Homo sapiens: one gene and its partner. The protein of the gene in region 2 interacts with the protein of the main gene of each other region in a biochemical or structural test. Each region holds a gene or a part of one and is shown on either strand. Other genes may lie near its edges.

What was found.
Region 1: the proteins of FBXO15 (region 2) and CRLS1 form a complex in vitro, tested with the Homo sapiens proteins (one study listed by BioGRID).

The regions. Positions count from the first base shown.
Region 1 is NC_000020.11:6,007,236-6,023,141, reverse strand, and holds part of CRLS1 (cardiolipin synthase (CMP-forming)), read right to left. Parts: intron 15,894-15,906; exon of another isoform or gene 15,741-15,893; coding exon of another isoform or gene 15,732-15,740; exon of another isoform or gene 15,724-15,731; intron 13,368-15,723; coding exon 13,230-13,367; intron 7,782-13,229; coding exon 7,652-7,781; intron 1-7,651. UniProt on the Homo sapiens protein: Catalyzes the synthesis of cardiolipin (CL) (diphosphatidylglycerol) by specifically transferring a phosphatidyl group from CDP-diacylglycerol to phosphatidylglycerol (PG).
Region 2 is NC_000018.10:74,119,626-74,135,531, reverse strand, and holds part of FBXO15 (F-box only protein 15), read left to right. Parts: intron 1-4,873; coding exon 4,874-5,116; intron 5,117-5,917; coding exon 5,918-6,127; intron 6,128-6,755; coding exon of another isoform or gene 6,756-6,879; exon of another isoform or gene 6,880-9,423; intron 9,424-9,430; coding exon 9,431-9,557; intron 9,558-10,960; coding exon 10,961-11,043; intron 11,044-12,021; coding exon 12,022-12,164; intron 12,165-12,512; coding exon of another isoform or gene 12,513-12,694; exon of another isoform or gene 12,695-12,940; intron 12,941-15,906. UniProt on the Homo sapiens protein: Substrate-recognition component of the SCF (SKP1-CUL1-F-box protein)-type E3 ubiquitin ligase complex.

The DNA of each region.
Region 1 (15,906 bases), on a different chromosome or scaffold from region 2:
CTGAAAACTTCAGCATGGAACTAAAAACCATAAAAGACAACTTAGCAAGTCCAAAAAAGAATAAAATAGAAGTTCTATAGTTACAGAATACAATAAAGTAAGATTAAATAGATTTGGTACAGCTACAGAGACAGGTAATGAAATGAAAAATAGTAAACCCATTAGTACAGCCAGAATGGAGCTCAAAAAGATAAAATGAGCTAACACAGAAAAAACCCACTGAGATGTAATGGATACGGGGAGAACGTCTAACATAGGTATACTGTAGCCCCAAAAGAAAAGAAAGAATACACAACAACAACATTTAAAGAGATTGTGGCTGAGAATTTTCTAGCACTGACTTCAAGATATAATGCACAGATTGAAAAGTCCAATAAATCCCAAGCAGAATAAAACAGAAACTTGCAACAAGAAATATTATTGTGAAACTGAGAAAAACAAAACACAAAGAAAATCTTAAAAATAGCCACAAGAAAGCAAAATTGCCTTCAAAAAAAGCAACATGGCCGGGTGCAGTGGCTCTTGCCTGTAATCAGAGCGCTTTGGAAGGCCAAGGTGGGTGGATTGCTTGAGCTCAAAAGTTCAAGACCAGCCTGGGCAACAGGCAAAACTCCATCTCTAAAAACCATATAAAAATGAGATGGGCATGGTGGCACACACCTGTAGTCCCAGCTACTCAGAAGGCTGAGGTAGGAGGACTGCTTGAGCCCGGGAGGCAGAGAATGCAGTGAGCCGAGATCACACCACTGCACTCCAGCCTGGGTGACAGAGCAAGACCCTGTCTTGAAAAAAAAAAAAAAAAAAAAGCAATGGATTAACAGCTGATTTCTTATTATCAACAATGGAAGAAGATGACTGAGCAATACCTTAAACATGCTAAGAAAAACTAATACCAACTTGGAATTCTATACATAACAAAAATATTCTTCAAGAATAAAGGCAAAATAAAAACATTTTCAGAGAAAAAGAATTTACCAGTACACCTACATTAAAAATAATTCCAAAAGAACATACTTCAGACAAAAGGAAAATGATCTCAGATGGGAGGTCTAAAATACATCAAACAAGACAGACTAGCAAAAAGTAATAAATATGAAGATAAATTTAAATGAACATTGTATAAACAATATCTGTGAGTTTAAGAAATATATAAAAGTATGACAACAGTAGCCTAAGCTGAGAGAAATAATTGGAGTTCAAGAATTCTAAGGTGCCTCCCATGCCCAGAATGAGTACAGAATTATTAAGATCATATTTTTATAAAGATAAATGTTTTAACTTGGAGGAAAACTGGATGGAAACCGTGTAAAACTTTCAAACTAGTAGAGTGAAAGAAAATATAATTTAAAAATACTAAAAAGGACAAAACATATGTGCCAAATAAAATACTTCAAGTAAAATAAAAGACTGAATGAAACATCTATCAATCACAATAAATATTAATGGGTTAAATGCTTCTGTTAAAAGACTATATGGGTTAAGACAAAATGGGTTTTATTTAAAATATGTTATTTACATATATATTTACATAAATATGTTATTTACAAGTGATATCTAAAAAGATGCAGAAATGTAGAAGGTAAAACATTTATCATGCAAACACTACCAAAAGCAAGCCAGCAGAGCTTAAGAACCCACAAAATATATTTTAAGGTAAAAATCATTACTACAGCTATAGAGGGTCACTTCATAACAAAACATTCACTTCACCAAGAAGACGTAACAATTCTAATTCATATTCACTTTAACAGCATAACTTCAAGACATACAAAGCAGGCCGGGTGCAGAGGCTCACACCCATAATCCCAGCACTTTGGGAGGCCGAGGCGGGCAGATCACTTGAGGTCTGGGGTTCAAGACCAGCCTGGCCAACATGGTGAAACCCCGTCTCTACTAAAAATACAAAAATTAGCAGGGCATGGTGGCACGCACCTGTAATTCCAGCTAGTCAGGAGACTGAGGTAGGAGAATCACTTGGACCCAGGTGGCAGAGGCTGCAGTGAGCCGAGATGGTGCCATGGGACTCTAGCCTGGGAGACAGAGCGAGACTCCGTCTCAAAAAAAAAAAAAAAAAAAGATACAAAACAAAATCACAACTACAGAGACAAATACTGGAGAACCAGACATACAGTAGGAAACTCTAACTGCTGAACAAACCAAAAGCAAAAGAACAGTCAGTGAAGAAAGAGAAGACTTAAAAAGCAGGATTAGGCCGGGCGCGGTGGCTCACGCCTGTAATCCCAGCACTTCGGGAGGCAGAGGAGGGCGGATCATGAGGTCAGGAGATCGAGACCATCCTGGCTAACACAGTGAAACCCCGCCTCTACTAAAAAAAAAAAAAAATACAAAAAATTAGCCGGGCGTGGTGGCAGGCACCTGTAGTCCCAGCTACTCGGGAGGCTGAGGTAGGAGAATGGCGTGAACCCAGGAGGCAGAGCTTGCAGTGAGCCAAGATTGCGCCACTGCACTCCAGCCTGGGCGACAGAGCAAGACTCCGTCTCAAAAAAAAAAAAAGCAGGATTAAAAACTTGATCTAATAGACCTATGAAGAACATCATACCCAAGAACTGCAGAATATACATTCATTTCAATTCATTTCAAGTATTCATGGAATATTTATAAAATCTGACAGTAGTGGGCTGAAAGGCTGAAATCACAGAGCATGTTCTCTGAACACAAGGTTATTATGACTGAAATTGTAACAAAAAGGTAACTAAAAAAATCCCCACAAAAATGGCAACAAATTAAGATATATTTATTTTTAACCTAACAGGTCAATGAAAGAATAATAATGGAAATAGGAAAATATTGTATACTGGACAATGACACACTAAAACCAACATAGGAGATGCAATGAAAGTGACACTTAGAGGAACATATACAGTCTTATATGCAATCTTTAGAAAAGAAAAGCTGAAAAACAAGTTAGGTATCCACTTATAGCTGCACTGCTCAAAACACACACTAGACTATGAAGGCGTATAGGAAAAAAATTCTCATTAATTTATTGATTACATGTTAAAATGACAATATTTTTGATATAGTGGATTACTTAAAATATATCAATTTTCATGTTTCCTTTTTTAAAAACTACTAAAAATTTTTAATTACATAAGAATCTTCATTTTATTTCTAGACAGAATTGATCTAAAGAATTTAGAGCCAGGCATGGTGGCTCACACCTGTAATCCCAGCACTTTGAGAGGTAGAGGCACCTAAGGTCAGGATCACTTCAGGATCACCTGAGGTGAGGAGTTCGAGGCCAGCCTGGCCAACATGGTGAAACTCCGTCTCTACTAAAAATACAAAAAAACTAGCCAAGTATGGTGGCACACACCTGTAATCCTAGCTACTCAGGAGGCTGAGGCAGGAGAATCACATGAACCCAGGAGGCAGAGGTTGCAGTGAGCTGAGATCATGCCACTGCACTCAAAAAAAAAAAAAAAAAAAGAATTTCGAAAAAGAACAGCAAAGAAAACCTGAAGAAGAAAAAAAATAAAACTACAAGATGTAATGAAGTAGTAAACAACAGATCAGAGAGGCTTGACAAAACCCAAAGCTGATTCTTTCAAAAGATTCATAAAACTGACAAACCTCTGGCAAAAAAGATGAAAAAAAAAAAAAAAAAAGGGACAAAAAATAATCAAGAGGAAAAGGAGGACATTACTACATATCCTACAGACATCAAAAGGTTAATGAGAGCTATTCTGGGCCCACTGCCTATAGGGTAGCCCTGCTCCACAAGGAGTAGTAAGTAAATAAATAAAGTTAATGAGGATACCATAAACACCGTATGATACATTTTTTATAATGTAGACCAAATGGACAAATTCCTAGAAAAACATCACAACTTAAAAACTGGTCAAAAGGTGTAATATGGAGTGAGTTGGTTGAAGGTTAAAAAAAAAGATGTACTTTAAACCTGAATCATCCCGTAACAATTAAAGAAAATGAATTACCTATTTTAAAACTCTGCCCTAAAGAAAACTCCAGGCCTCAACGGCTTTAACAGATTCTACCAAACATTTAAGTAGAAATATTCATAATCAAACATCTTCCAAGAATGGAAGAAAAAAAAAAGTCCCCAATTCATTTTATGAGGCTAGTTATAAATTTGATATGAAAACCTAACAAGAATATATGAAGAATTCCAAGCCAATCTCATGAATTAAAATTTGAAATCTTCCACAAAATATTAGCAAGCCAAATCCAGCAATCTCTTCATAATATATCATGGCAATGTTGGATTTATACCAGGAATTGCAGCTTGTTTTAACATTAGAACTAATATTGCATTAATATGTGTAATTCACCACACATGAACAGCTAAAGGGAAAAATGATATGACCATAGGAATACACAAAAGGAGTTTGATAAAATTTAATATCCAGGCCAGGGGTGGTGGCTTATGCTTATAATCCCAGAACTTTGGGAGGCCAAGAGTTCAAGATCAGCATGAGCAACATAGCAAAACCGCATCTCTACAAAAAACACAAAAAAATTCAGTACCCAATTGTGAGAAAAACTCTTAAACTCCCAACAGAAGTGAACTTCTTAACTTGAAAAAGGATACTGACAAAAACCAACAGCAAACATCATCTTTAATAGTGAAACGCTAAAGGCTTTTCTATGAGGTTGGGAATAAGACATTGACACCACTCCTTGCCAACACTGTACTACTCAGTGCAGTAAGGCAAGTAAAAGAAACAAAGGGTAAAAGGACTGGAAAAGAAGAAATACGTTGTCATTAATTACATACAAGACATAAATAAGCATGTAAAAAATCCAAGCAAATTTATATGTATATTGTTAGAATACAAGTTAGCAAGTTTCGCTAGACATAACAATCAACATTAGAAACAGTACTGATTTTTTCATATCAACATGGAGTTATAAGAAAATAATTTTTTTTTTTTTTTTTTTTTGAGGACAGAGTCTCACTCCATCACTCGGGCTGGAGTGCAGTGGTATAATCTCGGCTCATTGCAACCTCTGCCTCCCAGGTTCAAGATATTCTCATGCCTCAGCCTCCTGAGTAGCTGGGATTACAGGCACGTGCCACCACATATGGCTAATTGTTGTATTTTTAGTAGACAGGGTTTCGCCATGTTGGCCAGGCTACTCTTGAACTCCTAATCTCAAGTGATCCGCCCACCTCAGCCCCCCAAAGTGCTGCGATTACAGGGGCAAGCCATTGTGCCCGGCCAGAAAATGAAATTTAAAAGCTACCATTTATAAAAGCACCAAGAACTATCATGTACTTAGGAATAAGTCTAACAAAAGTGTTTATTATCTTTCTGGAGAGAACTATAAAACTTTGAGAGATATTAAAGCAGACCTCAATGGAGTAGATACTGGACTGGAAGACTTAACATTGTAAAGATGCAAATTCCTCCAAACAGATCATAAGTTCATTGCAATCCCAATCAAAATCCAAACAGATTTTTCTCTGGAAAATTGCTGATTCTTAGAAAAGCTGATTCTAAAATTTGTAACAAATGGAAACAAATGGAAAGGGCTAAGAATGTCCAAGGTGGAAGGACTCACTCTACTGGATATCAAGACTTTTAGCAAAGCAATAAGAAGAATGCCACTGATGCAAAGACAGACAAACAATGGGGAAGAAAACAACTTAGAAATTACCTTGCACTGAGTCTGAAAAATACAAATTTTTCTATAAAAAGTGCTAGGATAACTGGGTAGCCATATAAGCATTAGAAAATGAATTAAGAGAGATAACTTTTTAAAGAAAACATCAATTAGGAATCACATTTTCTTAAAATCCTAAAAGCTTTCCAATACTAAACACAATCCCATGTAAAGGAAAAGGTATCCAAATGATAAGAGACTGTTCCGTAGCAAGTTGGAATCTCCAAGTCTATGGAAGAGGGTCTTCACAATTCTGAATTAAAATCATCTGCAGTTTAAAAATTATGCCTCCAGCCTGGGCAACGTGGTAAAACCCTATATCTACAAAAAGTACAAATATTAGCCAGGCGTGGTGATGCACATGGTGGTAGGTTCTTGGGAGGCTGAGGTCAGAGGACTGCTTGAGCTGGGAGGTTAAGGCTGCAATGAGCTGAGATTGCACCACTGCACTCCAGCCTGGGTCACAGAGTGAGACCCTGTCTCAAAAAGAAAAAGAAAAGAAAAAAAGATAAAAGATAAAAAAAAGTGATGCCTACTTCAACTGTCAATCATGTATGGAAGACAAAATAGAGACACTGAGATGTCTAAGACCTCTAAAAATCTGGCTGCCACACTCCATCCTTCTACAGAAAACAACTGGAGAAAAGGAGTAACTTAAAGCAAAGGAAGACATGGGAGCCTGGAAAAACAGACTCAACACAGAAGAAAGAAAATGGAAACTCTAAGATTGCCAGTGAAGGGAAGTCTCAGCTTGGAAAGCAACCTACACCAATCATATAAGTAAAACTCACAGCAACATTACCCATAATTCCAAAAAACCTGGAAACAATTTCTATGTTCAATAGCAAAATGACTGGCCAACCTTTGTAAAATACTACATCAAAATACAATGTAACTTTGAAAAAATGGCAGGGGCCAAGCAAGGTGATTCAAGCCAATAGTCCCATCACTTTGGGAGGCCGAGGTGGGAGGATCACTTGATCCCAGAAGTTCGAGACCAGCCTAGGCAAGAAAACTCACACACACACACACACACACCCCCATTCCCCAATCACATACACACCTCAATTCTAACTTTCAAAGAAGCACATAAAAGTAAACATTAGTCCAATTTATTTTTTATTTTGGTACGAGAACTTAAAAGACTAAAAATCAGAAAGAAAAATAATTTCCAGTTGGGGGAGACTAGACTGAAATGCCACTATACTTCTTTCTACCAAGTGTCAATAATAACATGATACCGAGGGACCATGTGGCAGCTTCTTTGTTCTCAGATACAATTTCTTTCTTTCTTCCTTTTTTTTCCCTTTTCCTAAACCTCAAAAATGCAAACTCTTAGACTGACAGTGAAGGGAAGTCCCAGTGTGATCAGATATGATTCCTAGCTCTTGGGAAAAAAACAGTTTAACTTGGTCTGAGGGAGAAAAACTGAGAAATACGACTGAAGAAGAAAATGAACAATCAGAAAAGCACATGCAAAATACAAAGCAAAAAAATCATGAAATCTTATCAGAAAAAGTATTCATATAATGTACAAACTATATATATGATTTAAAAATTGCATAATAGGGTCTACATAATGTGAAATTTTATAGACATCTTCAGAATTTCAGAGTTCTCACTTATGATTAAACGATATTAATAAAGATAATAAACGTAGGAAAACTAAATTGCTTTTGAAAAGCTAGGCACTAAAAATACATAATGTATCACCAAAAAATTTCAGAGTAATATGAATTGGCACTGTGAAATATTTATTCAATTTTAATTTTAAACAATCTTACTAGGAAAGCAACTGATTTTACTAGTAAAACAAGGACATAAATTCTAAAATCCACAAGTAGTTTGACAAAACAGTTCAACAGTTTAAAATTAGGGAAACAGTTTAAAGTTGAAAACTATATTTTTGGAACAAAAATTATTTGTCTCTCAAGAGAAATCCTAAGCTGACTAATGTCATTCTTCCCTGTGCTATTCAAAAGTACGCATGACGCGTTCTTACCTGGAATAAGATCTGCATAGGTCAAGCTAACATATAAGATACTGATAAGTATTTTATCAGCAAGTGGATCAAGAGCACTTCCCAAAGCTGATCTTTGATTGGCCCAGTTTCGAGCAATAAATCCATCCAACTGAAAATAGAAGTTTTTTTTTATATATATAAATGTCATAACAGGAACAAAGCAGATATTCTGAAGCTTAAGATATACCAGAATAACAATTATACTCTCATAAAATGTTAACAAAATGTCTTCTGTTTCTTACCCCCAAACATTCTCATTCTTTTGCTGGTATACATTTCGCTTTTAAATTAGCAACTGGTCTTAAAATAAATGCACATTTATTTTCTTTCCCCCTCAAGTCCTTCTGGTTATTTCTCGGTATTTTCACAAGGCCCCTTTGTGGGATGAACCCAAATACACATTTAGAGATACGGTTAGTGATGTATTTACAGCTATAAAGAACCCAAAGAAAACTCAAAGAAAGCATGAACGGCAGAGCCTGGACTAGGATAATATAATCCAACTCTGTTAAAACTTACCATTTTTCTGTTTTTCAACTCATTTTGCTCAATACCACTGTTTATTCCATACTCTGACTGTATCTGCATTACCTACATTTGAATAGAAAACTCAATCCTCTCTACCTGGCCTAGTTAAAATTCTGATACTTAAATTATTTATTTTTATATTATTGTGATTAAAAATAAACCATTTAAAGCATAAGTCACATCTAGTTGCTAGTGGGCCAAATGGAGCCTGTAAGCTGGTTCTGTTTGACCTATCAGAGCTTTTAAAAACTGTAATTAGTTATCAACATGTAAGTATTCAATTCTTCCCATAAAAACCCAGGTCTCCATCCTAACTTGAGAAGGGAGCGGTCTGGCCACTCTGGGGCCACAAAATGGACTGAAATCAAGTACTGTCTATTCACATTAAACAAGGCAGATATTTTCTGGTTTATCCAAGTCCCTTCCTGGCTTTTACTCATTTAACTTCAAGTTTCAACAAATGTTTGAGTTCTCTAATACTATTTCTAAGGGGAAAAAAGATTAATTTAGACGCAATTAATCATGGTTCATTTTAAAGAACAAGTAAGTTGTCCATATCTCAAGTATTCCAATGAGTTAGAGGAGACAGCGGTAGTCCAGGACCGTGGTAAAAAAAAATGTGGTCTTTGTAGCAGAACAGAAGCTGTTCAAGTCCTGGCTCTGCCACTTAGTAGCTGTGTGATCTTGGATAAGTTATTTGGCCTGACTAAGCCTTAGTTTCCTCATCTGTAAAACAGAGATAAATTACCTACCTCAAAGGGGTGGTTGTCTTCAGCACACAATGTGATTAATACTTGTTCAGCACTCAGCACTTAGTAAATCCTCAAAAAAAGCAGTTACTAGCTATTGCTATTGCAACTGAAAAAATCTATTTCCTTCTTAAGCATACGAACAGAAAAGTACCTAGCCTGGGGAGCTGGGACCTTGGAAGATCAGGTTTAGTTCAGTTTCTGACCTCAGGGAACTTAACCTTTCACTTTTTCGCCATCATCACCCTCTCATCTTCACTATTCCTCTAATCCACACTAGATTCCAAGGTCATCAACATCATTCCTTTATAAACATCTGTAACTCCCCTTCACTCCACTCTCCTTCAACACTGCTTAAAAGCAACTCTCCATGTACTCTGGGCCTGCACCTAAGAGCTGAATAGTGCTTAAGGAAAACACACAAATGGGAAGACTGGTCTCACTTCAAACTGATGACCACAAATCTCCCATGGGCACCCAATACTGCCTAGCAATCCCACACTTGTTTACCATATTTACCCTCTCTTTTCACACTGTCTCTTCCACACTGTCTCTGCTCTCACCTCAGACCTAACTCCATCCCTCTCGCTCATGGTCATGTCTGTATTTTCCTTAAGGAAAAAGAAAACCGTAGTCAGCCCATCCTCATATTCCCATCATCAAATCCCCCACCTACCTGCATCCATTCATTCTCTCTGCCTTCCTTCATCCGTTCCCATGCCCTCTCACCTTCTGTGACCTGCCTCCCTTCTTCCCCATCTCCCCTTGCATCATCCATCTCTCCCTTTCATTTAATCTTTCTACCTGATCATTTAATTAATCAGTTAACTAACAACAAAAATTCACTGGGCACAGTGGCACACCTATAGTCCCAGCTACTTGGAAGGCTGAGGTGGGAGGATCGTTTGAAGCCAGGAGTTCAAGGCCAACCTGGGCAACACGAGATTTATCTCAAAAAAAAAAAAAAAAAGGCCAAACAAAAATTCCCCAGTATATACATATACTCCAGCATATATTTTTATATATAGGATTTTATATCTATCTATCTATATACACATAGATATAATTCCCCAGTATATATCTTTTTAAAAGACCCTTCTGTGATCCTATTTCTCTATCCCCCTACAAAGCAAAACTGCTTCAAAGGAACGTCCAATGTCATTACCATCTCACATGTGTTCATCGACCCACTCCAATCGTCCCCACCCCTCCAGAGGTGAGGCTCATAAAGGTCACCAAGGAACTCCGCATTTTTAGAGTACCTGACCTCGACACAACTGAAGCACTTTCTCCACTTTCTGGGAAATCTCACTGCCTAATTTTCTTCCTCGCCAGCTATTCCTTCCCAGGGTTCCTGACTGGCTTCTTTTCTGGTGCTTTACTTGTTGCTCATTTCTCTGACCCTTCATTCCTGTTACCTCAGCCTGGATGATTTTACCCAGATCCAACCATCTATATCTGACAGCTCCCAAATTTCTCTCTCTGTAACGATGACTTCCTCCAACTCCAAACTACTAAACTGCCCAACTGATACTTCTATGTGGATAGGCAACAGAATTCTTAGTATTCTCCCTTAAACTCTGCCCTACTCAAGTGTTGCCCATCACAGAAAATGTCATTTCCATGAACCTGGTTTTAGAAGAGAATTTTTTTTTTAAAGTAAGTCCCTAGTATTCATATTTGACTCCTCCCACTCTCACTCCATATCTAATCCATCCACATATTACTTCTGTCTTTAAAATATATCTCAAACCCACACACTTCTCTCCAACTCCAAACTCCAACCCCAGTCTAAGCTCCCACCACGGCTGCCATGGAACACGGCCAGCCCCTAACCAGTTACTCTGCTTCCACTCTTGCTGGATCATGGTCAGCCCCCTAACCACTTACTCAGCTTCCACTCTTAGCTGTCTATAATCCATTTTCCACACACAACGCAATCAGACTTTGTCGTTCCCTGGCTTAAACTGATGAGTCCGACCACCTCCCAGTGGCCAATTGAAAGGCACTAAAATCTCCATGGAACAAATGTGAAATGTGGCACCAGTTAACTTAGGTTTCCACAAACATCATCTTATATATTTAGTAAAATGTTAATGGGGCCTCTCTAACATTCAATGAATACTGCAATCTCATGTGGCAGCTTACAAGAAAAAAAAAAACGTAGCAGACAAAAAAGGAGACTACAGTAACTGAAAAAGATCTTGTCTGTTATGTTAAAAAAAAACTGTTATCAGTATAATGGCCTTTGACAGACTTGGAGATAATATTAACAATGAATGCAGGCTTTGGGATAAAAGAAGGGACAGGCCAGGTGTGGTGGCTCACACCTGTAATCCCAGGCCGAGGGAGGCCGAGGTGGGTGGATTACCTGAGGTCAGGAGCTCGAGACCAGCCTGGCCAACATGATGAAACCCCATATCTACTAAAAATACAAAAATTAGCCAGGCATGGTGGTGCATGCCAGTAATCCCAGCTACCCAGGAGGCTGAGGCAGGAGAACTGCTGGAACCCAAGAGGCAGAGGCTGCAGTGAGCCGACATCACGCCACTGCACTCCAGCCTGGGCGACAGAGTCAGTCTCCCCAAAAAAAAAAAAAAAAAAAAAAAAAAAAAAAAAAGCAGGGACAAAAGAAAAGGAGAAAGATTGTGAGAATGGGAAGAGGTAGTGACAAATATTAGTAGACGCTAAACTCTGGAAAAAGAGAGGTAAAGCCAATTTGGGAGGCTATGTTTGAAGCAGGTTTGGAAATGCCATGTAACAATGCAAATGCTCTCTTTTGTCTGCACTCCAAAATCTTCTGTTAATTTTATGTTGCCCACCAATGCTACTGCTACTAGGAAGGTGGAATTTTGTTTCTATGAACCTCGAAGAGAACAGCTGATGTTACAAAGAAAGACGGCATACAACTTTTATTAATATAAAACTAGTTTCTCTCGATTCTCACTCAATAAATATTGAGCAAAGCTTTTCAAACATAAATTAGTTTGAAGAGGCACCAAAGCACCGCCTGTCTGGATGCTCATATAGATCTCAGACCAACCTTGTACAAGAATATAATGTATCTATTTCTCCTGCTAACTCTGCCCTGGTTTAAAATTATTCCTCCATCTTTTCCACACTTCCCTCAACTATGTTTTTATACAGCATGAAGTTTTTCCTTTTTTTTTTTTTAAGAGACAAGTTCTTGCTCTGTCACCCAGGCTAGAGTACAGTGGTGCGATCATAGCTCACTGCAGCCTTGAACTCCTGAGCTCAAGCAATCCTCCTGCCTCAGCCTCCTGAGTACCTAGGACTGCAGGCGTATGCCACCATGCCCAGCTAATTTTTAAATTTTTTGTAGAGATAGGCTCTTGCTATGTTGTGCAGGTTGATCTCAAACTCCTGACCTCTCAAAGCACTGGAATTACAAGTGTAAGCCACTGTGTCCAGCCAGTTTTATAATGCATTTCGAAACTTTTTTGAAATAAAGTTGGTAATACAAATAATGTCATACATGATGATGGCTAGCCAGTCCACAAAAGCCTATTTAATGTAGCCTTCTGTTATAAAATTATTTTCCAGTTCTAATTTGAGATCATCTGAATAAATCCTCCTCTCCTCTATCAAAACTAACAATGTAGTATCAAGGAGAGCTCCTCTTCTTTGTCCATCTGCTGAGGGAGGAGAATGAAGGAAGGACGTCCAATTGTCAGCCCAGAGCAGAGTATTCTGCAGGGCAGTCAGAGGGGTGTAGAGCAGAGATCAGAAAATAAATCTGTGGGGGTACCTACAGCCTTCTGCTAGCATGAAACCTGAGCAAAGCTATGACTTCTACATGCTTCTGGTCATATCCCAGTTCCCTGGGTCATAACAACTGGTCCAGTTTCCCTCTCCACTAGGAAAACCAACTTTTTTTTGCAGATCTGAGTATTCCTCTTTACCACAATACATAGAAAAGTCATCTCAGATCTCCTCTCCTTTATTTCTATCCCTAAAGCAAGCACTCAGCTCTTTGGAAATTTCTAAGGGTGTTTCTTTCACTCTTAAAAACCAAGAGTACAAAGTATCCCCTCCTTTACTTCCCTACAACTTTCGCTTCCTCCTTGAAATCATATGAAAAAAAAAAAAAAAAATCCCATATAGATGCTAAAGACAAAGTCCTCACAAAAAGTACCACGTCAAATTCATCTTGAGGTTTTCCTCCCAAGGAAAAGCAGGCTAAGGCTATGCTATTTCGGTTTAGTAGTACAGACCAGGATTTGGAAGGAGAGCAAACTGGGAGTGCATTTACAACTTACCAAATCTGTTAGTCCAGCTAAAGCAAAAACTCCTAGTGCAATATTAAAATCTTCTTCAATAATCAAATAGCCCAGAACTGGGGCCAAGCCAATTCTCGTCATTGACAACATATTCGGGATTGTCCATGGGTTTTCATACTGAAACACAAAGACAACAAAATTTAAGTAAAATACTATGAATTCATACTTTGAATAACTATATACATACATTAGAAAAATATACTTCATCAACTTCAGTCAGAAGCTACATAAACTTTAAATTTAGTACATTAAATTGAATTTTAAAATCCATTCTGTTCTTTTTACAGATATCTCCCTAAAATCTTCTTTCAAGAATACAGAAGATGGCTGGGCATGATGGCTCACGCCTATAATCCCTGCACTTCAGGAGGCTGAGGCGGGAGGATCCCTTAAGCCCAGGAATTAGAGACCAGCCTGGGAAACATGGAGAGAATCCCATCTCAATTTTTTTTAATTAAAAAAAGAAAAAAAAAGAATACAAAAGATGAAGATGTATCATGTACCGAAACACAGGGTAAGGTGTCTTACATATTATAGGTTTCCTTTTCTCTTTTTTTTTTTTTTTTTTTGAGATGGAGTCTAGTTCTGTTGCCCAGGCTGGAGTGCAGTGGCACAATCTCGGCTCACTGCAACCTCCACCTCCCGGGTTCAAGTGATTCTTCTGCCTCAGCCTCCCAAGTAGCTGGGATTACAGGTGCCCGCCACCATGCCCAGCTAATTTTTGTATTTTTAGTAGAGATGGGGTTTCACTGTGTTGGCCAGGCTGGTCTCAAACTCCTGACCTCGTGATCCACCTGCCTCGGCCTCCCAAAGTGCTGGGATTACAGGCGTGAGCCAGCATGCCCGGCCTATTATAGGTTTTCTTAAGAGAGGGAAGACAGAACACATGTATTATCTGCCATATAAGCTAAGCCTTTAATATATAACTTCATTGTAAGAACTCAGAACTTTCAACACTCTGCTTTTAAAGGTGAAACTTCAGGAAGATCTTGTAAATAGACAAACAGTGTCTACTTACAAGTAAAAGTGTCAGGAAAAAAGGCCAAATTATCAACTCCAGGCATTCAGCTTTAAATACTGCAAAGAATCTCCCTCACTCCCTTACACATATCTAAAGAATGCTAAATGCTATATAGAGTGTATGGAGGTTTGAATGAAGAGAACAAAAACAGATTTAATTCTATAACCTCATCACTAAGTCAGAGAACTGCTAGAAGAAAATGGAGATAGGAATAGGGATTGTGATATTTGGAAATCGAGAAATTGTGTAAATTTGTTCAAAACAGTCATGGAAATGTTAAGATCCTCAACTAAAAACCAAGGACTTTCACAGCTCCCATCTGGGGGCTTTGCAATTCCTAGACAACTCATTTGGAGCCAAGCTGTTTGAAGTTGGCACTAACAAAAGAGCTCTTTGGCAGCTGTCTGAAGAACATCCCCTTCTTGCCAAACAGAATCTGACTCATGAGAGGATATTTCAGCTTTGAAAAGCCTCGGCCCAGCGGAGCTAAGACACCTTGCACAACAGGGTACAGAAATAACAACAAGAAAACGCCTTTCCCTGAAGCCTAGATTTTTTTTCTCCGCTGTGTCAAGACTGCCAATTCCACTCCATGGGACTTTCTCTTCTCTAGAACCCCTTTTAACCTCTTTCTTAATCAGTACTAGCCAACTTGCCTGAATCTTAATTTTGGTTGTAAAAAAGGTGGCAAAGGCCATTTCTGAAGATTCTTTTAAAATTCCATTTCTGAAGATTCTTTTAAAATTCTATGAACTATCCTGTAAAAAAAAAAAAAAAAAAGTATTCTCTAAAGACACTATGTCTGTGTTTATAAAAGAAACCCAGCAAGAAAGCACCTCAGCTTGGAGGGATAATTAAATAGTTATTGCTGGGGTCAGGTGGCAGAATACTGTCATTGAAAGCTATAGAAAAACTTCAAATTATCCGAAGAGCAATCACAAAACAAGAAGCAATACAAACCTCTACTCTGAGATCTTTTACTGAAAGTAATCCACATTATACAATGAAAACATTCTTGGAATACATCCCAAATTCAAGTTCAAATATCAGAGTGTTTCAGAGTCCAAAGAAAAAAGATAAGTCTGTTGACCATACTATGGTAGAGAATAAGTCAAATACTGATCAAAGGTTACAGCAACTCAAAGGGAAGAGTGGGAGGGGAGAAGGCTGCACACGGTTGCAAAAAAGCAGTAAGCAAAAGATCAGAAAAAAGGTCCCCAAATTAACTTCAGAAATTATCCACAGGGCAAAATTAAAGACAAAGTTGTAAACAGAAACATCATTTCATTTGGCGAATTAACAAACAGAACTCAATGTTGCTGGAACAGTGAAGGGAGTTCTTTTTAGCTCCACATAGAATATTTCAGTTAAGGTGTCTCATTAATTTGTAATCATTAAATCCGTAAAAGTTTCAAAGTTAATGTTAGGAGAGCTAATCTCAGATTACTCAACCAGATAACCTGTGGCATACTCGACCAACTACTGCCGTTCTGGGAAGGACTTCAGTCAGGATATGGCAACTTCAAAGTATCCAGCATTCAAACCCCAACATGCTTTAGCTATCAGTGGAGTTGAGACCCCTGCCAGGATCTGGCCACCTCAACCCATGCTGTACAACTGATGAAAGCAGTACAG
Region 2 (15,906 bases):
CTGTTACAGAATGCAGCTTCAGGTCTGTTGCCAGGAGGTCTTCGCTGTATTCCCCACAGAATCAGACCTAACCACAGAGTCTCAAGCAGCACTGCAGGGACCTGCTGGCTTTGACCCTAGCCGTGCATTCGCAGAGCAGAATGAGTGCTCTCTGCTGATGGCCAAGCAGATCCTAAAGAAAGAGAAGGAAGAGACTAAGTTAGGTGTACTTAGCTTCTCCTCCCAAACATGCCAATCAAGTTAACTTACTCTGTGGGGAGAGCGAAATGGATAGAGAGAGGCCAAGACTGTCCTCTCCTAGAGGTTGTACGCTTGGATGAAGGGAGCCAAAAGAGAGGGGTTCACCTGTGGTCATCTGGTCTTGCAGGGGGTGGATCTAGGAAGGAAGGGGAGAAACCTCTGCTTCTGTTTGTCACTATAATCTTAGCCTGCATCTCAGAATTGTATCTTGGAGGGAGAGATGGTGGAATCCTCCTTTCAGTGAGGATTTCGTGGCTTACAACAGAACATCTTGGCTTTTTAGGCCCCTCTCTCATTTAGCATCAAAAGATCAGACAAACATCATTCCTACATAGAACCTGCATGTCAGCTGGGGAGATCAGCAAGATGAGAGGGAATGCCGGTTTTAACTGATGGTTTTGTTTGCTAGGTAAGGAGACGGAGAGTGGCAGAATGAGAGCTGTCATATTAGTTAACCCTGGAACATGGTGGACAAGAATGTCATTTAGTGCAGTGGTTCTCAGATGCCATCCAGGGAAGACTACATATGAACCACCTGGGAAAGTTTAAAACATTTCCATCCCTAGTCTGCATTTCTAGGGATTATAATTTAGTGCTCTGAAATCTGTATTTTAAAAATTCTCCAGCCAGGCGCAGTGGCTCACACCTGTAATCCCAGCACTTTGGGAGGCCGAGGCGGGCGGATCACGAGGTCAGGAGATCGAGACCATCCTGGCTAACACGGTGAAACCCCGTCTCTACTAAAAATACAAAAAATTAGCTGGGCATGGTGGCAGGCGCCTGTAGTCCCAGCTACTTGGGAGGCTGAGGCCGGAGAGTGGCATGAACCTGGGAGGCGGAGCTTGCAGTGAGCTGAGATCGCCACTGCACTCTAGCCTGGGTGACAGAGCGAGACTCCATCTCAAAAAAAAAAAAAAAAAAAAAATTCTCCAGGTCATACTAATGAATAGTCAAGTTCCGAAATAACTAATCTAGTCCATCTTTGTTGTTAGGTGTATGCCACTTAAGTGAGGAACTCAGAATAAGCCCTCAGATCTCATTAAAGCTGTCCTCAACCATTGTCATACTCTGAAGAGGACATACACTGTTCCCTAGTTGGAAAGGGTGATTTTTCTTTTAATTTAAAGAGATGTTTCCTATATGGAAGAATATATGTATGTCTATGTCAATACATGCACACACACACAAACACACACATACACATATCAATGAATGAACTAATAATGTTCTTCACAGTAGTTATAGAATGAATTAGAGCAATTTCTACATTTCCCTTCCTTAATGATTGTTGTAGTTTACGTAGTTGAGATTTGTTTGTTTCCCCAAGCCTCATGTTGAAATTTGATCCCCAGTGTTGGAAGTGGGGCCTAATGGGAGTCATCTGGGTCATGGGAACAGATCCCTCCTGAATGGCTTGGTGCCTTCCTTGTAGTTCTTGCTCTAGAGCTGGTTGTTTAAAAGAGCCTGGCAGACCTCCCTTCCTTCTCTCTTGCTCACTCACTCTATTTCTCTCTCTCTGCCGTGTGATCTCTGCACAGTTGGCTCGCCTTGGTTTTCTGCCACGTGTAGAAGCTTCCTGAGGCTTCACCAGAGGCAGATGCTGGTGTTGTGCTCCTTGTATAGCCTGCAGAACTATGAGCCAAATAAACCTCTTTCCTTTGCAGATTACCCAGCCTCAAGTATTCCTTTGTAGCAACACAAAGAGACTATGACAATGATCTAATAAGAGATGAAGGTGGTCACTAAAAGAAAGCACAGCAAGGCATTTTTCAAGGAAGGAGTCAACCAAATATCTAAAACTAGCATTCTGGAGGGTTCCCACTTTATTTAAGGGTAGAACTCAGACTCTTCAGATAAGCTGATACATTGTATATTTCTTAGTTTCTTTACTGTCTTCTCTCTCCACTTCACCTGCATGGTGAAGAAACCAGGCCTGGAATCAGATTTGGAGCATGGCTCTAGTGATGTTTTTTGCATACTTTTAGTATTATTTGTGTGCCCTCCTCACTTTCTTGGAAGTTGCCGTTTGGAAATATGAGCTACTGATGAAATTGCACTCACATTTCTTTTCTTTTTCAAAAGACATATTTAATTGTGCTAAGTTGAATTGCACTTTTTAGGTCCTGTTAAAGGACCTAAAGAGTCATAGTCTGACTCTTAAAGTCAACGTCTGATCATGAAGTCAGACTACAGAAAAGGATGTGTGATAATTGAACAAGTAATCAATATGTGTTTTTGAAAAGTTTACAGTGTATTCTAAGCGTTACTTCTGAAGAGAGGGCAAGCACACATAGTGTAGTGAGTTACACTGATGACTTATGGGCAGGCACACTTGAAGGGCAGGGGGCTCCCCAGTGCCCCATCCCAGCAGCGGGGCTACTCCCTTCTGTGTGAGCCCTGTCTCTGCGTGAGAAAAACAGGGGTGTGTGGATGAGGTGACATCTGGTTTATCACAAGGGGGTTTTATTTGCCATGTACTCTGGCAAACACTATTTATCTGAACATTAAATTGGCCCCATTTTCTAAACAACTTGTTTGAGTTTCCCTGAGCCTGTTGGTAGTTCTGTTGGATAAATATGCCCTCGTCCTCGAATCTGACTAGGCCTTCTAACAGGATGGAGCATTTGGGGATCAAGAAGTAAATGTGTTTGGAGACTGTGAAAGGTATCTGAACCTTAACATTTGTATATTATAAAAAATCAAGGGGAACCATCTGCAATATAAAATGTTTTCACTTAGGTTCACTTACGGTAAGTAATATATGATCATGTATGTGAACATAGTTCATCATACGAATGTTAGTTGTGGTTATGGTTACTCACTGCATGTGGAGTTTATGCTGTGATTCCCATCTCTGCGGCAGTGTTTGTTTTTGCAGTTGGTAAGTGCTAACACATGTAAAAATAGTATCAGAGGTTGTTTAGATAGTGCTGATGTGAGGAATTCAAGGCTCCATAAAGGTCCTGCTAAAGGAATACTTACATAGGGTGAGATGCTGAATAAAATAAATGTGAAGAAAACACAAGCAAGCTTTTATGCAAAGGGAGTTTTAAAAGTGTCTATTCAAAGGATTTTGGTGAAACAGTTTCAGCTTTACTTAAATGTACTCAACTCATCATCGCATTGCATCTGTCCGCTTACATAGGAAAGTCTAGAAATTTCTGAATTGAAAACACAAACACTTTAATATAAAAGCTAGGCATGAAGTGATTTTGCAGAGTGAGAAATGACTGAGAAACCCACACTAGGAAGAGAATTCAACCAGGGTCTGACTGTATGTGAGCTTGCATTTGTTGGGAAGTCCATGTAATGTCTGAGTCAAGGAGGTGGTGTTCCAAAGTCACGTGTTTGAGAAATGGTCCTTTTCTGCTGTGGTTAAGGAAATAGCTCTGCCTCCCCAGAGCACCCAGTTATCCCCAGGGGTCCTGCTGCAGTTCAGGACCACTGCTCTGTGGGGGAATCGCTTTTTCCTTGCAGCCTCCAGGCCGTTGACTGCTTCATCCCATGCTGCTCTGAGTAGTAATGTGGAGACCTAAATGAGCAAATCATTAATGTTTAAAATGCAAAGTTTGCCTTTCAGATAAGGAATTGATTTTAACCGCTGCCTCAGTTTTCCCTGTGTCTTCCTTCTCTTTCCTGGTGGAGAGTACTGGCTGAGAGGGAGGAGCTCTCAGGCCAGCTCACTGCCACCACTCGTGGGGCTTCTCCTGCCCTCTTAGTAGAGATGAGTGGAAGGAACAGACTTTGAGTCAGAGCTGAATTTGAATTCCAACATTGAGGCTTATTGGCTCTCTGAATTTGGGGAGCTTATTCAGTTTCTTTGACCCATTTCTTTGTGATTGAAGAGGCAGTGAAACCCAGGTGATAAGAGTGTGAGCTCTGGTTCCGATCCCAGCTTCACTATACACTTGAGTGCACAGACCTGGGCCAGCTCACCTTGCATCTGAGCCTCAGTTACAGCATCTATGCAGTGGGGACAGGAATACCAGCACCTCCTGGTTTCTTTCTGAGGAATAAATGAGTCATGTATAATACATAAAGTGGTTAAACGATGCTTGACACATAGTAAGTGTTGACAAAATTTAATGTTAACTATTGTTTAGTTGTTACCATTAAAAACCTTCACTTTTTTTCTCTTTGTGAAAGCGTATTCCTTGTTGAAAGTTAAAAAATAGCAAAAAGAGTGTTCAATTCCATTGTTCCCTATTGAAATTTCTTGGTGTGTGTACATACATCCTTTCTGATCTTTTTAAAAGCATGTATGTATTTAAAAACAAGAATCATACTACATATACTTTCTGTTATGTTTAAATAATATATTTCCTATTCCATTACTGGTATAAGAGGGCAGTCGTTTGGATGATCCTAAATAACGTGAGATTACTCACTTGAGACCTGACCCTGGGAAATGGGCTTTTCCTTTTTTTAAAATGTGTTTTTGGTGGTGTTGAATTTAAAACACTAAATCTCAAACTGCAATTCACTTTAACAGATGAACGTTCAACTGTAAATATTCAGCTTGGCTTATTCATGGAATTGGATTATTTGAAAATATGCATCTCTAATTTGATATATTATGACTAAGGTAGGTGACAGTGTCTCTTAGTTAACATATTTCCTCTTTTCCCTCCAGTTTTATTTGGATCGGAATCTACTCAACTGCTTTTTCACCTGCAAGATCAAATTGGAAATTTAATTCAGTAGAGAAGATAGCTATGTCTATGAGCTTTCTGTCAGTTCAGGATAAAGAAGCTGGTTATTGGAAGAAAGAATATATCACAAAACAAATAGCATCTGTAAAAGCCGCACTAGCTGACATTCTCAAACCTGTCAACCCTTACACAGGCCTTCCAGTTAAGACCAAAGAGGCCCTCAGGTACGCAGTGTGTTCCAAAAGAGAATGATGGCATCAGCTCAAAGTATCGTGTACGTAGGACGTATGTGCAGTTTAGATTGTGTGGGACTGTCTCTAGTATTTTTGTGTGTTTTGTGCATCTATAAAATATGTATCATTTTCCTATTCCGCATAGCCTTCTGCATCTGCTGATTCAACCAACTGCAGATCAGAAATATTAGTGGGGGGGAACTTGAAACAATAATAACAGTATAAAAAAGAATACAAATAAAACCAGTACATTATACATAATAACAACAGTTTGCACAGCATTTACATTGTATTAGGTATTATAAGTAATCTCAAGATGATTTAAAGAATACGGGAGGAGGTGCATAGGTTATATGCACATACTATGCCATTTATATAAGGGACTTGAACGTCCACAGATTTTGGTATCATGGGGTTCCTAGAACCAATTTCTTGCGGAGACAGAGGGATAACTAGTAAGTAGCCTAAAGTTTTAATGAAAAGCAGAAGTAACCTACTTATCTGCTATAGTACAATAAGAATGTTCAAGGTCTCTTTTCTGGGCAGAACCTTTGTCTTATTTATATATTGCCAGTACCTGGAAAATCATGGATGTTCAGTGGGTGTTAGGTGAGGAGAAAAAGTCTAAAGAGAGTACTATTGTTGAAGTGAAAATTATACTGGGCACATTCTGAGAATTTTGACTTTGGCTTTTAAGGAACTAGATGCTTTAGAGAAGATACATGAAATTGCCTTTAGCATTTTTTTTTTTTCAATGAGGCAAACATTGTTAGTTTTTTTTTCTTTCTCCAGAATATTTGGTTTAGGTTGGGCAATTATACTGAAAGAAAAAGGTGGAAAAGAATATATCATGGAGCATGTTGATCTTTCCATAAATGACACATCAGTTACTGTTATATGGTATGGCAAAAAATGGCCATGCCTAGCATCATTGTCAACCTTAGATTTATGTGGCATGACACCAGTTTTTACCGACTGGTATAAAACTCCCACCAAACATAGGTAAGTACCAATCAGCAGAACTGTTGAGTGAGAGCATCTTATATGTAAATATTAGTTGGCATTACTTTTGTAATTAAAAAATAAGAGCAGCGTTTTTTAATTTTATCACATATTAAATGTACATTCTGCATTAATGCAGAAGAGGAAAAGAGTGCATTTTATCACATTTCTGATTAGGTCTAAATTTAACTTCCTCGTATCTTGGGGTTGTCTTTAATGGTAAAGAATGATGTTCTAGTTAACAAAATTTCCTGGATGATTGATGGCTAACCTTTGAGGTTTTTCATTTTAACCATCTTAACAGAAAGATATATGTTATCTTCCTTCTTTAGTAAATGGTATACTAATCATAGTCTAAATATGAGGAAACCAAGTCATAATTATGAGTTATTTTGTCTGCCTTCTGTTGAACTTACTAGATATGTGATCTTGTGCAAGTAACTTACTCTTTCTGTGTCTCCATTCTCTCCTCTATGAAATGGAATGATCGTTATACTGGCATAGTATTTAGCATATATGACTGCAATGAATAAGATCGATCAAAAGATATCACTATAAAATGCGTAGATCAGCTAAGTGTGCAGCACATGGGTAATGCTTAGTGAGCCCTTTACTATTCTGTTGTCAGGTGGCTTTGCACTGAGTCCATACTCACTATGAGGCTGGCATTCTGCCTTTCTGAGCAGCTCTCTCGGGCTGTCTTTTTCATCATTGATTGCTTCCTCCTAAAAGCTGGATTATGGCATGCATAGCATCCTCATCTCTGGAGCAAGCTAACATAGCTTTATATAAGATATATTGCAAATATAAAGGTAATACCTGCCTTCTCCTGCGTTGGTTTCCTGCCCTCCCATCTCCTTCACTGTCTCAGTATTCTTTGACTTTTCAGGAGTATTTACCATGTCGTTTTCTTACCATCCTTGCGTGCTGCAGTTCCACCCATTGGTTTCTCTCCTGTCTGTCCTTGCTATGGAGGATACTGTGATATCTGACATTAGTGCCTGCCATCTCTATGGAGGGACAGGGTTCTTTCATGGTTTCCCTGGATACAGACACTTTTTTTTTTTTTTGCAGCTCTGTAACTGGGGACCTTGTTTTTGGCTCCTCTCCATGGCGCCTGCTCTTTGAGCATTGTTTTAGTGATTACTGAGCTCTCTTCCCATGCTCTGAATGTAAGACTATTCAGACCTCTTGGTGCTGGCAAATCCAGGTTTTATTGTACTCTAAAAATATTCTTAATGTTATGATGAAAAATGAATTATTTTTCCTAAATATATTACTGAAGATACTTTGGAAACAGTTACCTTTTAAAAAATGGTACTTTTATTTGGATAAATCTTTGAAATTTCATACGGGATCATGAAGGAAGCCAGCTTTTTCTAATGTAGTAATTAGGCTTTATGCATTTCAAAATTACGTTTGGAGAACAAGTCCACAAACTGTACTAGTTTTGCTAAACAATATGTTACTTGGCATATCATGAAATGTTACTTACAGATATTAGGACAAACTGGCTAACATTAATTCAAATGATCCTGAAGAATTAAGTTAAATGGATAATGTTGAATTATAAAGCTCAGTTAAAGACAGTATTTCCCTGAAATGGTCATCAAGGTCAGAAGTAATAGATACTACATAGTGCCCAATGCTAGAATTCATTGGGAAAATTCATTTGATGTAATTTATTTCTGTGAAACTTCCATGGACTCCAGCCAGCCTTTGATCAACTGTGATAAACAAAACTAAAAGTGTTTTTTAGGATTTGTTTTGATCGGCACTTTTATTGCAAGTTTGTAAGTGAATGCTTTCATTGTGCAGGAATATAAATCCTTGTACGCATCTGTGTGACAGCCAAAAAGAGCCTTTGTGATTTTTATTTGGGTCTTTTTTGTTTCCTCTATGAGAAGTTTTTCAACAACAGTGAAAGCCTCATTGATGTAATCTGGATTTCCCTGTAATTTATACCTTTCTAGTCAGACTCCAAATTTTCTTCCTTGCCAGCACTTTCTGCTCTGCAGCTTGTGCTGTCCCACCCTAAATTTGTGAGAACTGCTGGGGAAACGTCAGCCTTAGTTTCTGTGTCTGTGGCTGTAAGGCCAAGCACATGAGGACTCAGCACATTCCCAGAGTCTATTTAATAAGTACCTCTACAGCCAGATTTTCAGAGAAGAAGGTTTCTCACATCCCCACCCAGCCTCCTCTATCCACATTAATGATACTAGCAGGGACTGCGATTTATTGAGCACCTGCCCCATGCCGTGTGCTCTTGTCCCCACTCAGCAGGCTGGTGATTTCATACACAAAGAACCAGCCTGTGATAGTCGCAAAGTCACTGTAGGTTGAAGCTAAGGTTTTACCTCAGGTTTCTCTGACTCCACAGTGAGGTTCCTGACCCTGCATTTATCCTCCTCCAAGTGTATTCTGCATATGCTGGGTTTATTTCTAATTTCTACATCACACACGTTCACCGACCGTCTCTCCTTACCCAGTTGTTGTTCTCTGCACAAGAAGTTATTTTGAAGAGCTGAACATGGGACTAGGGTCATGTGGCAGCTGCGGATCTGGTTTTGATGCTTCACAGTCCCTTCCACTTTGAAGCTGGACTGCAGCTGGTGTCCTTTTTAACTTATTTATTTAATGTACCTTTGAATTCCTATTGCCTGCTGGCTTGTGCCTGAGGTGCTGGGCACCAACTGTTGAATGAGATGTGGCCCCAGCTCCTCAGGGATTTCAGTCTAATGCTGTGTTAGTGTCTCCTTTATGAAAACACTGGTGATTTAGTTTAAGTTTATTTCTGATGTGTCAACTTTCACTATCTCTGAGTTATCCTTGATGATAACTGTGAAAGGCCCATCTGCTTTCCAGCCATCTCCTGAGACCACCCGTTCTTATGTCACTTGAAATAGTGTATCTTTGCTTCTGTGTTGTTTTACTCACTTGACTAGGAATACACATTGAGAGTCTACTTTAGATTGTATTGTGCTGGATTTGGAGGGAATAGAACAGGAGACAATGCTGCCACTTCATCACTTTCCTGGTCCTTCAACTTCCTCCCGGCTGGGTCATTGAGTTGACAGTAAGAGCAAGACGGAGGGGAAGAAATACCTAGTTGGCTTGGAAATCTGAATGTATCCATTTTGCCTTTTATTCATTTGTGTCCTCACCCTGCCAACATGCCACTTAGTTTGAGCACATCATTAACATGCTCTTCAAACACATTTGTGATACACTAAAGAGAATTGACAACACTATGGACAGGAAAGCTCACTTCTCTCTCTCCTTTCCTTGGCATAACGTTCAAAGACTCCGATGGCATTCTTTAATTGCAAAGTACAATCTGAGTCATTTGACCATATCTACCATGATTGGCTGTGACAGACTCATTCGGATCTTCTGCCTGCACCCTGGCCTCCTGGTGGGAGTGTGGAAGGTAAGACTTGAGTCCCTGTATGTACTGTGTCATTTCCCCATCACAATACCACATTTACTTACCATTATGTATGACTTCAAATGTAAAATCCTTTAAGCTTTTCACTAACTGCAATCCATTTTACCATCTCACCAACTTCATTTTTTCAAGCTAACATGGCCCTCTCTGTTCCACCGAGGCTGCTGTGCTGTTCTGCTATGATAGACAACTCTGCTATCTGTTGTTCTGCTGTTCTGCTATCATAGACAACAACCTCTTCCTGCCTTCATGTTTTCCTTCATGTTATTCCTTTCATGTCATGTGGCTTTCCCACTTCCAATCAGTCCACGTTCCTTCTTCTCTTCCTTTCATGCTCTTTCTCTGACAACATTTCCCTTACTATGTGTTCAGCACGCTTGTCTCCCAAGCCTGTTTCTGATCCTGTAGGTGCGGCATTGAGTGAAATCTGCTCTTCAGGGTCAGCTGTCTACGATGTTATCCTTTCTCTCTGCATAAGATTTCTCGTTTCACCAGGTCTGGCTGATATTTTAAGATAGTAGTTCACAAATCTGTTTCTGAGTTGGCGTTATGCATTAGTTTACAATGACTAGACGGGATTAAGACCCTAGCTTCAGACAACACCATCCTCATCCCTTTTCCTTAGCCAACTGTGGCCGTCACTTTTTCTTTCCCTCCTCCCCTTTCTGTGTGAAGGTGGCTTGTGGGCGAGACCGCAGCTTGCCTGCTCTGCATTCGGTGACTCGCATGCATCCAGCTTTGTTGGTTGCAGAGTTGTGAGCACTCTGGTGGCTTCGATTGTCCTCTGCCTGGCTACTGGAGAGTGGCACCTTCAAATTTACCATTTGGGGGTCACCTATGCCCATCAGTGTCAGCTGTGAATCTGGGGAGAAATGGAGGTCAGTCCCCAAATAGTCGCATTTTCTGCTATTCAACCTCATGGACAAGTGAAGAAGTTGAATCTAATCATTCCCACCACGTTGGCCAAATCAAGCAGTTACTTGCAAGAGGAACATTGTGTCAGTAAAGTTCAGTATTTGTAGAATTAATCTGGTATCTGTGAAAGTCTTTGAAAGGAATTTGAAACAGCCTGGAACTAACTGCATAGTTTCACAACTATCATATATATCTTTTGATATTTCACAAGCTCTAGGCTGTGAGTTCTTTTGGTCCTGTGTGCTCTGCATATTTGGGTGAATTGTGGTCCTGCTGTCAATATGAAATATAAGTCTTATTAGATAGTAGTAACATATTAGCAGTAATAATGCATTAGCACTGTGGTGATCTTATGTTTGTAAGAAAGTGCCTCTATCTGCAAGATGAATGTGCTGTGATCTTCACAATGATCTTGTGAAAAATGTAAGCATTTTGGTTGAAATATGTATTCTTCTCAATTAACTTTTCAGAAGGAGGAAGAACTGGCTTTTGTTATGGCAAATCTTCATTTTCATCACCTTGTGGAGAGGAGCACATTAGGCTCGGCTACTATGTATGTATTTATATGTGGGTGTGTTGAATTTTTGTACAGTAAATATAAAGTATTAGAAGTTGATGCCATCTTAATATCCTGAGAATAGCTGCAGAGATATTCTGTTTTTAATCAGTAAACACAAACCAACAGGCACAATTAGCTGTCGCTAAAATAATTGGATTATTCACGAGTACATATTTGCTTTATTTATTCTGGGTCAAGGAATTTGTACCTAGTAGGTTGTTATTTGTATGGGTAGGATAGCTTGATTACTTCAAGATGCCACTACTGTCCTTCAAGTTCTTGCTCTTATGTGAATTTTCACATCTTGTAAGGCATGTAGACTCATGGCCCTTGGGCTGAACCTGGCCTGCGGATGATTCTGTCCGGTCTGGACAGTGTGTGTCTTTTAATGAATTTGCGCGTCTTTAGGTGGCGCACAGGCTTCCCATTTCACTACAGCTCTCACCCTTTTCCTGTGGACTTAGACTCCCTTACTCATTTTTTTTTTTTTTAATTACCTGAGAAGCTCCTGAGTATTTTTGAGTTTGTCACCTTACGTAGTCATGTTTTTCTTGTTGAATAAAACTTTGTCTTGGCTTTGGGTCTGCCTGGGTGTTTGTCCTGCAGATCGGTATTCAGTGCCTTTTCCTGCTGAGCACTTTTGTCCCCTGGACACTGAGAACAACACGGAGGGCAGAGTGGCTTTTATAGAGTGGCCATGCTGGGATCAGCTGCAGAAACATGTGCACCCGTGCTGGGCGGTGGCTGCCTACAGAACTCACATCATTGCCTGTTTTTATAGAAGTTGGTAAAAGTAACATTGAGCAGTCTTTTAAGTTCACAGTATTGAAGATTATAGGGAATCCTATGGAGTTTCATTTGTAGGAGGTAGTGCTTTGATACAGATGGTAATTTTTTAAAAAGTATTTTCAAACCAAGAATTTTATCCCTGGTGTTGACAAATTTGTATGTTTCTTTTGTTTTGCTTTTCAGCCCCTATGAACTGCCTCCACATAGCCCCTTTTTGGATGATAGCCCCGAGTATGGACTGCACGGCTACCAACTCCATGTTGATCTGCACAGCGGTGGGGTTTTCTACCTATGTGGTACATTTCGCAATCTCTTCACCAAGAGAGGTGAAATTGATTGAGTTTTTATTTCATTATGAAATTAAAGGTTGAGGTGAGGGAACCAATTTTGATGTCCGAGTTAAGAATTGCCCTCACTGGTCACTTTATAATCTTTTGGCACCAGTATCCTCCCAGACCCGTGTGTCATCCCAGGGCTTGTGAAAGTCCTCACTGGACCGAGTCTCTTCAGAACTGGCTCTGTCTCCTTCACCACCATCACTCTCAATGCCACCTTCTGGGGGTAGCCCCTACTCATCTTCTCTACTGATGCTTCCTTATTATTTTTCCATGCTCTCTGCTTTCCCCAGACTTCTTCCCTTCTTTCTTAAAGGAATGTGGTAAATTTGCCAGCAGGGCCCGTGCCGCTCCAGGATGAGAGTAAAGAGAAACCAGCCTTTCTCCTCTACGTACTGCATCACTGTTTGCCACACCTACCAAAGCCAGGACAGAGGCTGGGGCAGACAGAGGAAAGGAGGGAGCTTACGCCAAGCAGGAAAAACGAGGGAGTGGAGAATGCCCCATTCTCACTTATCTGATTATTTCCTTTTGGTTTCATTCTACTGTAGCCTGTAAACTTGGAGTTTCATGTAAGGACTTGCTTAGATTCAAGTTTAACATTTCTGGTAAAAATATTTTAAAAGGGAAGTTATGTACTTCATTTTGCATTATATTGAGAGGTATATAATGTCAGGTTGTCCCATTATTAGTAATGCCTGGTTTTATCATCTGGTTAAGATGGTGACCACTAGATATCTTCATTATTAAAAGTATTCTTTTCCAAATATCCTGGTCCTCCAAAGTCTTTCATCTAGTGGACTTGACACTCATTAATGATATGTGCCTAAATCAAATATTTTGTTTAAAAATGTTGATTTTCTAATTATGTCACTATTTCTATATTTATCAACTGAGATTTTGTAAAGAACTTTCTCTTATCACCTGGGTGAACTTCTATAAAGGCAGAGCAAATGCTTAATTCTTTCCTTTTAACTGCCAATTTTCAGATGAAGAAATTGATGTTACAGAGCACAAGGGGCTTGCTGCCTAATGTGCTGGAACCCAATACTGTGACAGCAGGTTTTTGAGAAAGGAAAAGCTTTTTATGGCTGGCCCACTGATAAGGAGACAGGAGTCCAGCTCAAATCTGTCTCCTCATGCTGGCTTTAATGCAGTAATTTTATTAGAAAAGGTGTAGGGAGTGGATTCTGGGATTAGTAGGTGATCGGTGGAAGGAAAGGGAGGTCTGGAAAGTCCTCAGGCATGGCGCAGTTACCTCTTCATGCCCTCGTAGGTCACTTGCAAATTCAGGAGGAGTTAATATGAAACATGTGGTGGGAATTCAGGCTGTGATGTCAGAAAACTCCATCTGTGAAAACTCCAGTTGGCCATATTGGTTCCGACTGATTTCAGCCAGTTTTATCTTACAAGTGGAGGGCGTTTTATTATTTTAGTAAGTTGCCTCTTTTCTTATCTGCCATCTTGCAAACTCAAGCATTTCTGTTAGTCATTAGCTTCTTTAACTCTGGAGCATGGTTTCACTGAGGCACTAGTCATCTCCTGTGGTGGAAGAAATGTGAGCTCTTCTTCTTTCCTCCTCGCCCCCACCCTTGTTTAATGTCACTTTGGACTCTTGGATATTTATTTATTTAATAATTTATAGTCAGTTATAGACATTTCTTTTTGAAGTTACTTGGTCGGTGGGATCTGCTTTGGGCTGCTTCTGTGTCCTGTAGATATCCTCTTTGTCTTTGAGTCTTCCTTGCTTTTTGGCTCAGGAAGATTGCTAGGTTTTCTCGCGTTTGTTGGCATTTTTATCAGAATTATTCAATTCCACATATTAACCTGAGGTATAGTAACATCTATGTTGTTGAATTGTTCCATCCAAGAATGTGGAACATCTTTCAGTTTGTTTAAAAATACTTTTATGTCTTTGAGGAGTGTTTCAGAATTTTCTTCATGCTAGTTTTGCACATTTCTTGTTAAGATATTTATGAAGTATTTAATTCTTGTTACTTCTCTTTCGTTTTATCTTCCAGCTGTTTTGTGATTTCTTTGTGAGGTTTTGGTCTCATAGAATGAATTGGGAAGTATTCTTTCCTCTTGGATTTTTTGGAGGATTTTGCATAGAATTGGTAGTATTTCTTCCTTGTTTGGTAGAATTCATCCAAGCCTGGACCTTTCTTTATGAGAAGACTTTTAACTACAGTTTCCTTTTCTTTCAAAGAGATGGAGCTATTTAGGTTATCCATTTCTTCTTGAGTCAGCTGTGGTATTTTTTGTCTTTTAAGGAATTTGTCCATTTTATCTAAGTTGCTGACTTTATTGGCATAAAGTTCTTCGTAATAGTCCCTTATTATCTTTTTCATGTCTATAGAATCTAGTGACATGATGTGATTCCTGATATTGGTAATTCATGTATTTCTGTATTTCTTTTTTTTCCTGATCAGTGTGGCTGGAAGTTTATCAATTTTATTCATCTTCTCAGATACCTAACTTTTGGTTTTATTGCCTTTTTTTCTGTATTATTTTGTTTTGTATTTCATTGATTTGCATGTTGATTTCTATTCTTTCTACTTTTTTTCTGCTTATGTTGTAATTTTCTGTTTTTCTAGTTTCTAAAGGGAGAAGTGGAAATTATTGATTTGAGAACTTTCATTTTATCATATTGAGACATTTGGTGCTATGAACTTCCACCTAAGTATTGCTTTAGTGGCATCCCACAAAATCTGATATGTTTTATTTCATTTTCATTCACTTTAAAATACTTTCTAATTTCCTTTTTATTTCTTCTTTGATATATGGGTTAGATAGAAGTGTGTAATATAGTTTCCAAATATCTGAGGATTTTCTAGAGATCTTTCTGTTACTGAGTTCTAATTTAACTCAATTGTGGTCAGGAAATATGCTTTGTATTACTTGAATTTTTAAAAAGTGACTGAAATTTGTTGTATGTTCCAGAATATGATCTATTTTGGTATATGTTCCATGTGTACTTGAGAAGAATGTGTTCTGCTGTTGTTGAGTAGAGTGTTCGAAAATATTAATTAGGTAATACCGGTTGAGAGAGTTGATATTTTTTGCCTACTTGTTTTATCAGTTAGAGAGAGGTGTTGAGATCTCCAACTCTGACAGTGAATTTGTGTACTTTTTTGCTGTTTTATCAGTTTTTGCCATGTGTATTTTGAAGCTCTGTTATATTCATGAACACTGGAGACTATGATATCCCTTTGACTAAGTACACACTGTGTACATTGTTGAGGGTGCCCCCAGTGTGCCCTAGTGCACACCAAGGGTACAAACGCTGTGCCTTCTATGCCAGTATTAGCGGAGAACTGAGTCTCTGCTCTCCATGGCTGCAGCCCTCATGGAGTGTTGAATTCGGCATCTAGCCTGACCTGGTGCCACCACTGTGGGCAGCTGGCCTGGGAAATGGGGGAACAAGATGCGATTTCCACAGAGATGAGGTGAGATGGCTGCCTGGTCCCAGCCACAGCTGCTCCTCAGAGCTCTCCTTCCCCTTTAAACCTTGTGAACCGTTACAGAGCCCTGTGTGTCCCCACTCTGCCTCCCCCACCTCAGCCCACACTGCTGCCATCCCCTCTCTGGCCTTATCCTTTTCTGTCCTCCCCACTCTAGCTCCGCTGCAGCTTTAGTGAGTTCCTCTCTGTTCCTTGACTGTATCAGGCTTTCTGTGGCCTCACATTCTTGGTGTGCCCCTCCTGCCTGCAGTGTTACTGCCCCAGATCTT